Regions from separate parts of the Homo sapiens genome. Here region 2 is linked to region 1. The links come from fine-mapping of genetic effects on gene expression. A gene starts in region 1. The other region holds a variant in brackets. All regions are shown on one strand. Distances are from middle to middle. Region 1 holds the start of TRADD (TNFRSF1A associated via death domain). Region 2 overlaps TPPP3 (tubulin polymerization promoting protein family member 3).

Region 1 (5,362 bases):
GGACTTCCCTCCTCCCTCTTCTCAATCCATGTGCCTGTGTCCCACTCCCTAGTTCCAGGTCGGGCTTGTGTACCAGACCTGGCCAATCTGCATATTCCATTCACATTTCTGCAGTGATTAGTTCAGGGCGGGGTATAGGACTTAAGTTGGACCCATGAGAATCAACGCTGCGACTCTGGTTGAGCCAATAGGAAAGAGGCACTACTTTCCCTTCCCTTGGGGCTGAACTGGAAGGAAAAGGTAGCTCTCCTTTAGCACTGCTTGGGAAGAGCCTGGCTGGGAATGAAGCTGACACAGAAAGAAAGAGTCAAGAGATGGAGAAGTGCATTCCTAAGCATACTAGGCCCCTGGATCCAGCCGTCCCTGAAGCCATTGCACACTGGACTTTTCAGTTATGTGAGCTAAATAATTCCTTTTTGTTATAAAGCCCTTGGAGTTCGGCTCCAGTCATTTCCAACACAAATTGCTCTATTCCTTCCCTGTCCAGAAAAAGCCAGGGCCCCTTGGTGCTAGTATAGTATCTCCTTCCTCCATCTTCTGACAAAAACCTAGCTCTGGACCAGCGGGGGCAAAATTCCCAGCCAAGGAACCACTGCACTGACCTACAGCTCAATGGTCTCCCAGTTACTACCCCGTGAGACAGCAAGTAGAAAACTGCCTCCTCTTTCTCCCCACCTCACCCTTTTCCTACCCACCCTTTTCCTATAATCATGGGCTCAAGGCCCTACCTCCTGCCCCATCAGTCACACTCCTGTACTCTCATCAGGGTTTATATATGGTGGGCTAAGAGGAGTGTTGAGTGTTAGCTATGGGGCAGGACAGATGGGGTGGCCCAGCTGCCATCTGTTTACATGAGGAACAGGAAGCTGTCCTCCTGCCCTGGCCTCCCAAAGTGCTGCGATTACAGGAGTAAGGCACTACTCTCGACCTTTGTTTTTTCAATTGTCTTGTTTTTGAGACAGGGTCTTGCTCTGTCACCCAGGCTGGAGTGCAGTGGCACTATCGCAGCTCACTGCAGCCTTGACCTTCCCAGCTCAAGCAACCCTCTCACCTCAACCTTTCAAGTAGCTGGGACTTTAGGCACACGCCGCCATGCCTGGCTAGTTTTTGTATTTTTAGTAGAGATGGAGTTTCACCATGTTGCCCAGGCTGGTCTCAAACTCCTGGGCTCAAGCGATCTGCCCACCTCAGCTTCCCAAAGTGCTGGGTTACAGGTGTGAGGCACCACACCCAGCCTTCTAATCTTTTCATAGAAAACATTAATACTTGTGTACTTACGCCAAACCACAGTCTGGATAGTAACAGGAAGTTTGCATTTTGTTTATCTCTGGGCAGGATGAAGGAAGGTAGGTGGGGGTGGGGAAGGATTGTGGGTGATTTTTATTTTCTTTGTATTTAGCAATATTTTCTGCTTTATGTGAAGTAGACATATTTTCTTTGTATTAAAAGAGCAAAATAAATTTGTTTTCTTTAAAAGCAAAACAAGAAAAAACAGGAAACTCTGCAGGTGACAAGTGGGTCCATAATAGGGAGCCAGCCACGGAGGTGAGATAAGGGGGGAGTCCTTCGAAAGTGGCCTGGGGAGTAGGAGAGAGTGGGAACTTCCCCTGGAAACATTCCCTCTTTCATGTCTTTCTGGCCCCTTGACTTGAGAGTGCTTGACTTGGTTATGGTCCCACCCCAAGGGGTGGAAGTGGGGACCGAACAGGACCATTGTCTGCCCATCAGGTCTGTGGGGGTCGAGGGGGAGGTGGGGAGTACTGGGAACCTGGAGACTGGGGATGCTTTCTCACACTCACTAGTACTAGAAGATGGGGAAGGTGAACCAGGCTGGAGGTCGAGTTAACAGGGTAAAGAGGCCAGGGCCCTAGTTTCGCATCCGCCGACTGGCAGCTCTTCTTACGTGTTCTTTCACGGAAGCCCCTCCTTGGGAAGCCCCGCGCCCCACCCACCAGGAGTCGTCCCTTTTTGGGCGGGGCTGAGGCTTCCAGGCTGGGTCCTGAGAAAGTTTGGTGGCCGGAGACTGTGGGGCGCTTAGGTACCGACCTAACAACTTCTGCGCCTGTTTCCAGGGACGAGCCACGCACGGTGCCCCCTGAACACCTAACAGTCCCGGGGGCAGCCCCACCTCTGGCTGGGTGGACAGAGACAGCCTGTGGGCGTGGCCCAGAACTGAAAGCCTGTGACTCCTTGCGACCCGCCGGGCACACCCCCTACTCAGCTACGCAGCTCCCGAGCGCTTGAGGGGAGCTTCCCAGGCTCCCACTAGCCCACCCTCAAGCTGGGGTTTCGCACGTGCGATCGGCTGGGGTGGGCAAGGGGGTCTCCGCTCAAGGAAAGTATTCAGAACCAGCCCCTTCTCCCCCACCCTCTCTCCTGCAGGGCCCTACTGCACCTCGAAAGTGCTGGCAGGGACGAGGAGCCTGCGGGGGCCAAATTCCGTACCGTCCCCCGCCTCCCACGGTGTTCGAACAGCTCAGTAGACCGCCGCCACCAGCTGGCTGGAGCAGCCGCCGGTGACATCTGCGCCGCGCCCACGCTTCGGAGCCAAGATCCACCTCCTCTCCCGCCCGCACCGGGGAGCCCACCCACCCACCTGCTGCACTAACCTGGCCGCCTCGGCGGGGCCTGGGTTCCCACGCCCGCCAGGCTCCGCTCTACTCCGCCGCTTCCGGGTGTGCGCGGAGGCGCTGGGGCGGTGCCCTAGCCCGAGCCGCCCCGTCCGCCCGCGCGTCCCGCCCCGCGGGCTCCCGGTGGCTGCTTCCCGTCCGCTGTCCTCTGCTGCCAGTCCCCTGCCCCGGGCAAAGCCCATCTGGTCCGCCGAGCAGGTAAGACACCAGCGCCCAAGGTTAGACGGCAGGAAGACCCGACTTTGGGGGTTTGCGATTCTTACGAGGCGGGGGGCTCGTAAGAGCTACAGCTGCCAGACTTCGGTAAATCAAGGGGGCGCCCCCTGGAGACCAGAATTTTCTGGTACCCCTGGGGATCCGGCTTCAAGATCGCTGCTACCAGTGGGCACTCAAAACGGGGTGCCCATGGGTCCCAGGTACAAGCCCGGCCGAACGTATCTGAAGCCCCAGGAAACACGTGGCACAAATTCCGGGAGAAACTGTTAGCCCGGAAGATATGGGAACATTAACTGGCGAGTAGTGTGAAGCCTTGTGTACACAAACCTTTAAGAACCTTAAAACAAGATTGGCGGCCGGGCGCGGTGGCTCACGCCTGTAATCCCAGCACTTTGGAAGGCCGAGGCAGGTGGATCACCTGAGGTCAGGAGTTTGAGACCAGCCTGGCCAATATGGTGAAACCCCGTCTCTACTAAAAATACAAAAATTAGCCCGGCGAGGTGGCGCGCGCCTGGAGTCCCAGCTACTCGGGAGGCTGAGGCAGAAGAATCGCTTGAACCCGCGAGGCGGAGTTTGCAGTGAGCCGAGATCTCGCCACTGCACTCCAGCCTGGGCGACACAGCTAGATTCCGTCTCAAAACAAAACAAAACAAAAACAAACAGGATTGGCAACTTCAAAGAGGACGCACACTTTCCAGTAACCCATCCCCCTCTAAAGGCTGCGCTCCAGGGTGGGTCTGCGGAGTTCCAGCCGAACCCAAATTGCTCAGCGGGAGCCAGGGCTGCTCAGGGGTCGGAACTTAAATCTTGAGCCCCTCAGGCCCCAGAACCGTCAGGTCCCAGAGACCCAAGTTTTTTTTCATCCAGTGGGGCTGTCTTAGGAAGCACCCGGGACATCTCCCCGGCGAGGCGGAGGCGGGGAAGGAGCCTCCCCTCCAGGGGTGGATCCAGCTTTGCCCCGCCCACGCCTCGCTTCCTGATTGGCTCATGGTCCCTGACAAAGAAAAGCCTACATTAACGCTCCCGCCTTATTAACCCTGTAGTCACTTTCTACTAACCGGCGGGGTTAAGATGGGGTTTCTCAGGCCGGGCGCGGTGGCTCATGCCCGTAATCCCAGCACTTTGGGAGGCCCAGGCGGGCCGATCGCTTGAGCCTAGGAGTTCGAGGTCAGTCTGGGCAACAAAGCGAGACCTCGTCTCTGCAACAAAATTACAAAAATTAGCCAGGCGTGGTGGCGTGCCCCTGTAGTCCCAGCTACTCGGGAGGCTGAGGTGGGAGGATTGCTTGAGCCCGGGAGACTGAGGGTGCAGTGAGTTGTGATTGCGCCACTGCACTCCAGCCTGGGTAAAGAGCGAGACCCTGTCTCAAAAAAAAAGAAAAAAAAAAAAAAAAGTGGGAGGGGAGTTCTCAACGTGGAACCTGTGGAGTCACAGGGGCTTGTTGAAATGCAGATTCCTGGGCCTTACCCTTTCCGGAGAGCCTGATTTAGTAGGTGAGGCGGTGAAATCTGCTTTGTGAACAAGTTTCGGGGTTATCTGATGCCCCACGCTGTCTGAGAGGCCCTCAGTTCCTCAGGCCACAAGCATTTGTACACCTAAGCTCGGTCTTCCTGCAACACTTTGCGCCTTCCCGACCTCAGAGACGTCCGTCTCTCTCCAGGCCGGAGCTATTGGGAGTGGCGGATCCTCCCACCCCAGCCGGATCTGGGCCATGGCCGAGCCTGGAGAGGGACTGCCAGAGGAGGTGCTGGCACTCATCTTCCGCCACCTGTCCCTGAGAGACCGTGCTGCCGCCGCCAGGGTCTGCAGGGCCTGGGCCGCCGCTGCTACCTGCAGCGCCGTGTGGCACGACACAAAAATCAGGTGAGCCTGCTCCTCCACACTCCTCTCCCCACCGCCCACTCACCTTCTCCGTGGAGTCGTGGGCTAGGTAGATATTCAGGTTGACTCCCCCATATTAAAAAATAATTGCTGGCCGGGCGTGGTGGCTCATGCCTGTAATCCCAGCACTTTGGCAGGCCGAGGCGGGTGGATCACCTGAGGTCAGGAGTTTGAGACCAGCCTGGCCACCATGCTGAAACCCCGTCTCTACTAAAATACAAAAACTAGCCGGGCATGGTGGTGGGCGCCTATAATTCTAGCTACTCGGGAGGCTGAGGCACAAGAATCGCTTGAACCCGGGAGGCAAAGGTTGCAGTGAGCCGAGATGGCACCACTGCACTCCAGCTTGGCGACAGAGTAACAGTTTATCTCAAAATAATAATAATAATTGCTGACGTATTGACTGCCTAGTATATACCAACCATTGTTTTTAAGTGCCTTACATATATTAACTAATTTAATCCTTATGAAAACCTTGTGTGGTAGATAGGTATTATCATTACCTCCATTGCCCAGATAGGAAACTGAGGCAAAGAGACTTAATCACTTCCCACGGGTCACTCAGCTAGGGAATGGCAGAGGCAGAATTCGAACCTAGCAGTCCGGAGGCCATGCCAAGACTCCTTAGAGACAGC
Region 2 (5,362 bases), 230 kb after region 1:
AGCATGTGGCTGAGGGCAAGAGCAATGGGGAGAAGCTGCAGAGAGCAGCAGCATGTGCGAAGGCCGGGAAATGGAAAGGGACGTGGTTTCTTCAGGGAGCTGAGGGGCTGAGAGGAGGTAAGCAGGAGCAAGGTTGCACCACTCTTTGAAGATTTTAGATTGGGAAGGCAGAGGAGTGACAGACTGTGTTTGAAAAGCTTTCTCAGGACCAGGCATAGGGGCTCACACCTGTAATCCCAGTACTTAGGGAGATCGAGGCGGGAGGATTGCTTGAGACCAGCCTGGGCAACATAGTGAGACTCCGTCTCTACAAAAAAATTTTAAAAGTTAAGGCGCAGTGGTGCATGCCTGTGGGCCCAATTACTAGGGAGGTTGAGGCATGAGGATCACTTGAGCCCAAGAGTTCAAGGCTGCAGTGAGCTATGATTGCACCACTGCACTCCAGCCTGGGCAACAGAGCAAAACCCTGTCTCCAAAAAAAAAAAAAAGAAGAAGAAAGAAGAAGAAGCAGGAGGAGAGAAGAAGAGAATGGGTTGATCATGTGTGAAGTAGCGGGGGACCAAAGCGGAGCTAGGCAGCCCAAAGAAGAGGCAGAGGCAGGCCGGACTAGATATGCTGCTTCTGAATATGTTAGCTTTGGGCTCAGCATCCAGTTTACATGCAGGTGCCCTGTACTTTTAATCCTGATTGGGCATTTGAAAAATCAATGGGGAAAGATGATGTAAGTGGTTCTAGGTATGTTTCTGCTTCAGTGGCCTCCCAGCGTGCTAATGTTGCCAGAGAGTGTGTAGAAAGTGAAGGATTTTCAACCTAATGCCACATGGTTCTTCTCTTCACCTTCAGGGCCACATCAGAGAGAGAGACAGGTGGAAGGATTAGATAATTTACTTGTACCCCTGATTCCATGCTGTGCAGGGAAGGAGAGCCACCACCATACTAATAAGACATGACAGTCACAAGTTTCTAAGTTATAAATCCACAGACTTCTGGATTTTAAGTGGCTTCCCAAAAGCAGCTTGTACAGAGGAGCCAGAAGTTTCTTTGAGCTGCAAGGCTCTGAGGGAGCTAGAGCGAGCTTGTGCTCTGTGGAAATGTCAGTAAGAGCAGCCTCCCTGCACCCCCGCTGCCTCTTTCCTGGGCCTGTCTTTGTCTCCCAGGTAGGGGAGCATCAGCCAGTGGCCTTGCATCCCTGAGTTGTTATATTTCAGGGTCTCAGCCCAGTGCACAGGCCAACCTAATGGACACACCAGGGGGCAGGGAGGAATAATGCACTGCTTTCCTCCAACCCAGCCCTTCCTGCCTCCTCCATGAACACCTGATGGTGCTAGCCCCAGAATCCACTCAGGACACCTCCTAAGGGGAACAAAGAGCCTGGCCCAGTGTGTGCCACCCTCCACCCCATTTGCCATTGTCATTGAAAGTGACCGACCCTGCCCCAGGCCAGGCACCTGCTAGGTTTGCTGGCCACTCCTGGGGAAGTCATCTGTTTCTGATTTTTCCCTGTATGGCACTTGTTCTACAGGGCACGGGTAGGGGTTGCGATGTTAAGGAGAGAGCCAAAGAGCTCAGGGCAAACTGGACTCAACATGGAAAGCGGAGGACCCTTTAAACAAGCAGAAAACACGTGGAGCAGAATCCCACACCCTAGGCCTGGCACTACCACCAGAAAGCAGGACAGGTCTGGGATGGAGACTGGTCCTCAGGGAGGTTCTATGTCCAGAGGGAGGGGCAGAGCCACTCTTAGGTTGGGAGTTCTCCCAGCCATACAGAGCAGGTTTTAAAGGCTCTGTCCCTCTGATCCTAACCTCTCCTTTGTCTAACCTGATTTTGCTAGCAAGGGTATCCAAAGCTTTCAACCACAAGGAGGCTGTTAGGGGAGGGGCAGTGGCATTGCTGGGCAATGGCTGTCATGTGCCAGATTCTGCTAGACCCGTCTGGTCTTAGGGTCCTCCCAGCCCTGAGTGGGCCTTAAATTCCCTCGGGCTTCATAACGGCATTTCGAGAAGAGGCGGCTTTACTCCTATGACGTGGGGTTTTGGGGCTCAGCCATTCTCTCTGTGTTCTTCCAAGCCATACTGCCAGTCACAGGAATGGAGAAGCCGCTGGGCCCTCTACCATTGGATGGTACTGTCACCTGCAGTGGAATAGTGGGAGCCTGGCCCAATTTGGAACACAGTTAAATTTGTTTCCCTGTGAGGCTGTTCTGGTGAAAGCCAGAGGATTTGGGTTTCACTCCTATTATGTTCATTTTAAGCTTGCAATTCAAACGAATTTTCCAGGGCTAGAGGAATTGTTCCTCTGCATTTTTTTTTTTTCATTAAACGCCTTGCATTCTACCTCTTAACATTTGCTGGTGGGAGGATCTGCCTGAAGGTCCCTGAAGCTCTTCCCTGGGCCACTCAAGGAGACGCGGTCAGCTGGGTCAGGAGGAGCCGCGCTGTGAGGCAAGGCTCTGCTGTGGCCAGGTGCCCACCTGCTGCCTGCCGATTCCCGCCTGACATCCCTGTCTCAAGCCAT[A/G]CTATTCCGCTACACCCCTGTCCCCAAGGAAAGCTGGGCTTAAGGGATGTGGGGCCACCTGGGCAGGAGCATCCCCCAATAGACTGTGGGATGAGAGGATAAACAATGGTGCTGCTTTGTCTTGTGATCTGGGTCAGGAAAGCAGGCATTTGGGAACTGGCCCTTTTATACCTTTTCTAGCCCCTTTGGGAGCCACCCTCTCCTGGGTAGGCCCTAAAGTCCCATCCAGCCCCATTTTCACAGCAAGGAAGGAAGGAGAGGTAGCCCGAAAGCCTTGGCTTGGGAATAGCTCTGTCAAAACACCCAGAGCCTCAGTGAGATGATCTGGAAACGCCCAGGCATCCTCAGGACCAGAGAGGCTCCCTTCCCCCACTAGGGATGTGGAACAGATGGGAGGACATCAAAGAGGAGGCCCCTTTACTGAGGGATGCCCTGCTCCCACCACAGGCTAGTGTTGGGTGCCAAGCCCTATCACCAGTCAGCCAGTCCCAGTTTTGGAAGTCAATGCTGGGGCTTGCTAGAAAGAGCCTGGCCTGGGAGGCAAGAGGCATGGTCTGGCCTCTAGTCTGCAGAAGCCCCTCCACCTCTCTGGATGTTTCCTCAGCTATAAAATTACGGAGTCAGATGAGCTACTCTCTTTTTTTTTTTTTTTTTTTTTTTTTTTTTTTGAGACAAAGTGTCTGTTGCCCACACTGGAGTGCAGTGGCGTGATCTCGGCTCACAGCAACCTCCAACTCCTGGATTCAAGCGATTCTCCTGCCTCAGTCTCCTGAGTAGCTGGGAGGGACTACAGGCACGCAACACCATGCCCAGCCAATTTTTGTATTTTTAATCGAGACGGGGTATCACTATGTTGGTCAGGCTGGTCTTGAACTCCTGACCTCATGATCCACCCGCCTCAGCCTCCCAAAGTGCTGGGATTACAGGCGTGAGCCACCGCGCCCGGCCTGGATGAGCTACTCTCTAAGGTTCTGCCTGGCCCTGCGTTTTCTGTATTCTGAGCCAGAACCCAAAATGACTTGCCTCGGTAGCCCCTGTTCGCAGACTGAAAGCTGATGCCTGGCTCTGGGGCCTCTGCCAATGCTTGGCCCAGGCTGAGTCGGCTGTTTCATCCCTCCTACTGCTGTGAAAGTGGAGAGGGGGCCAACTCTCCAAACCCAAGGCACTGGTCACAGGAAGGCAAGCTTTGATGTCAGGACTCCCGTCAGGCCCAGCTAAAAGGCTTTGGACTTCCCCAGGAGTCTCCTCAGACAGAATGGCTCTGTGCTAACAGAAGGGGACTCATGAGTGCCTTTTTCTGGGCAAGGCTGCCAGGGGAAGGGGAGTGATTAGCAGTGTGTGGCATGCAGCGGGGTGATGACACTGAGGGGGTCACTGGAGTGTGAATGTCATTCCCCCATCATCGTCAACCAGGCCATATTGGTACAAAAGGTGTCTTTATTGAGGTCTGGGTTAAAATTAGGCACTTGGCCAGAGCAGCAGCTTAAATATGAGGCAAGCAGTCAGGGGTTAGCCATGCCTGGGGCTGGGTTGGGGTCATGAGGCTACAGGCACAGACTGTCCCCAGGTGGACAGAAGTTGGAGCAGGAAGAGGAGGAGGAAGGGGCCGCAGAGCAGCCTGGGTCAGAGGCCTGGTGGGCCAGCCCAGTGGGACTAGGCAGGAAGCTCTGGGTGGCAGGTCCAGCAGGGAGGGGACCAGGATCTCTTGCTCCACGTGCCCCTTAGACCCAGGCCTGAGCCTCTGGCAGGGGCAGCCGCACTTGGCAGGGCGGTCTTCCCAAGCCTCACTTCTTCACCTTGGCATCGTAGGTGCCTGCATTCTTGTAGGCGCTCACGTAGCCACTGTCGTCCAGGATGTCCTGCCGTCCCGCAATGCCCTTGCCCTTGCCGCTCTCATCGAAGCGCTCCTTGTGGGAGCCCGTGTATCTGCTGGTGTCCGTCAGCCGGTCTACAGCACCCCCTGTTTTTGCTTTCTGTTTGGACAGAGTTTCCCCAGGGGCACCTGATGAGGGAGCCCAGCCCTTCCCACCCACAGCCACGATTCCCCACACCCCATTCCGTGGCCACCCGAGACCAGCAGGGCACTTACAGTGACGCCCACATTGGCTGGCTCTTTGCCTGCCACCAGCTGGCAGATGGCATCGAAGGCCTCCTCCTTGCTCTTCCCCTTGAATCTCTTGGTCGCCAGCTCTTCCAGGGCCTTCTTGAACTCCTCATAGTTGATGACCCGAGCAGACTTCCCCCTGACAGGCATGTGGGCACCATGAGGGTTCCCCTTTCTTTTTTCTCCCCCAGGGGAAAGCTCAAACACATTTGCTGCCACCACAAATTATGCAATTGCGTTTCTTTCCCACGTTTGGGGAAGTCGCAGGGGTCAGCAACTCTGGAGGGCAATAGATATAAGGTTTGCCCTGGAAGAACGACCTTCGTGATCATGGTGTTTCCCTGACCCCTTCTTGATGTCCTCCCTGGTTCCAGCCCCCCAGTTCCCCACCTCCTGGGAACATGAGAAGCAGGGGCTGCTTAGGGCTCACTTGACTTTGGAGAAGACGATGTCCACATCGGTCCCTGTCACGGACTTTCCGTCAGCCACCTTGCAGTCCTTGCACAGCTTGGCCCAGTTCTTGCCATTCATCTCTTGCCCACTGGCCTTGGGGTCACCATGGATGGCAAACTTGCGGAAGCTCTCCTCCAGCCCAGCCATGTCTGTGCTCGCTGCCATGCCACCCTATAGAGACCCACCTGGGTCATCTCCCAGCCAATCTGCCCTTCCCCTCCCCCAAGCCCAGAACATCCCAGCCTCTACCTCAAACCTGCAAGACCTGGGCAGGTTCTGCTACAGAGT

The links. PIP is the estimated chance that this variant, and not a neighbour inherited with it, causes the effect.
Region 2: its variant is the best candidate, but not a certain one, in a credible set for the expression of TRADD in whole blood (TOPMed, PIP 0.73).

What each region holds. Positions count from the first base shown.
Region 1 is chr16:67,157,229-67,162,590 of GRCh38, forward strand. TRADD (TNFRSF1A associated via death domain) reads right to left here and starts at 2,681. Exons shown (of 5, transcript NM_003789.4): 1 at 2,610-2,681. FBXL8 (F-box and leucine rich repeat protein 8) reads left to right here and starts at 2,729. Exons shown (of 3, transcript NM_018378.3): 1 at 2,729-2,828; 2 at 4,507-4,709. The coding sequence starts at 4,558. RefSeq lists enhancers at 1,850-2,109, 4,657-5,169, 5,243-5,362 and silencers at 2,710-2,849, 3,870-3,959.
Region 2 is chr16:67,385,873-67,391,234 of GRCh38, forward strand. It overlaps TPPP3 (tubulin polymerization promoting protein family member 3), which reads right to left. Exons shown (of 4, transcript NM_015964.4): 2 at 5,052-5,245; 3 at 4,607-4,760; 4 at 3,937-4,490. The coding sequence starts at 5,239. The coding sequence ends at 4,302. It also overlaps the pseudogene RNU1-123P. Among named protein-coding and RNA genes, the nearest start is that of TPPP3, 4.9 kb to the right of the region's middle. The variant A/G (reference allele first, on the strand shown) is at 2,518.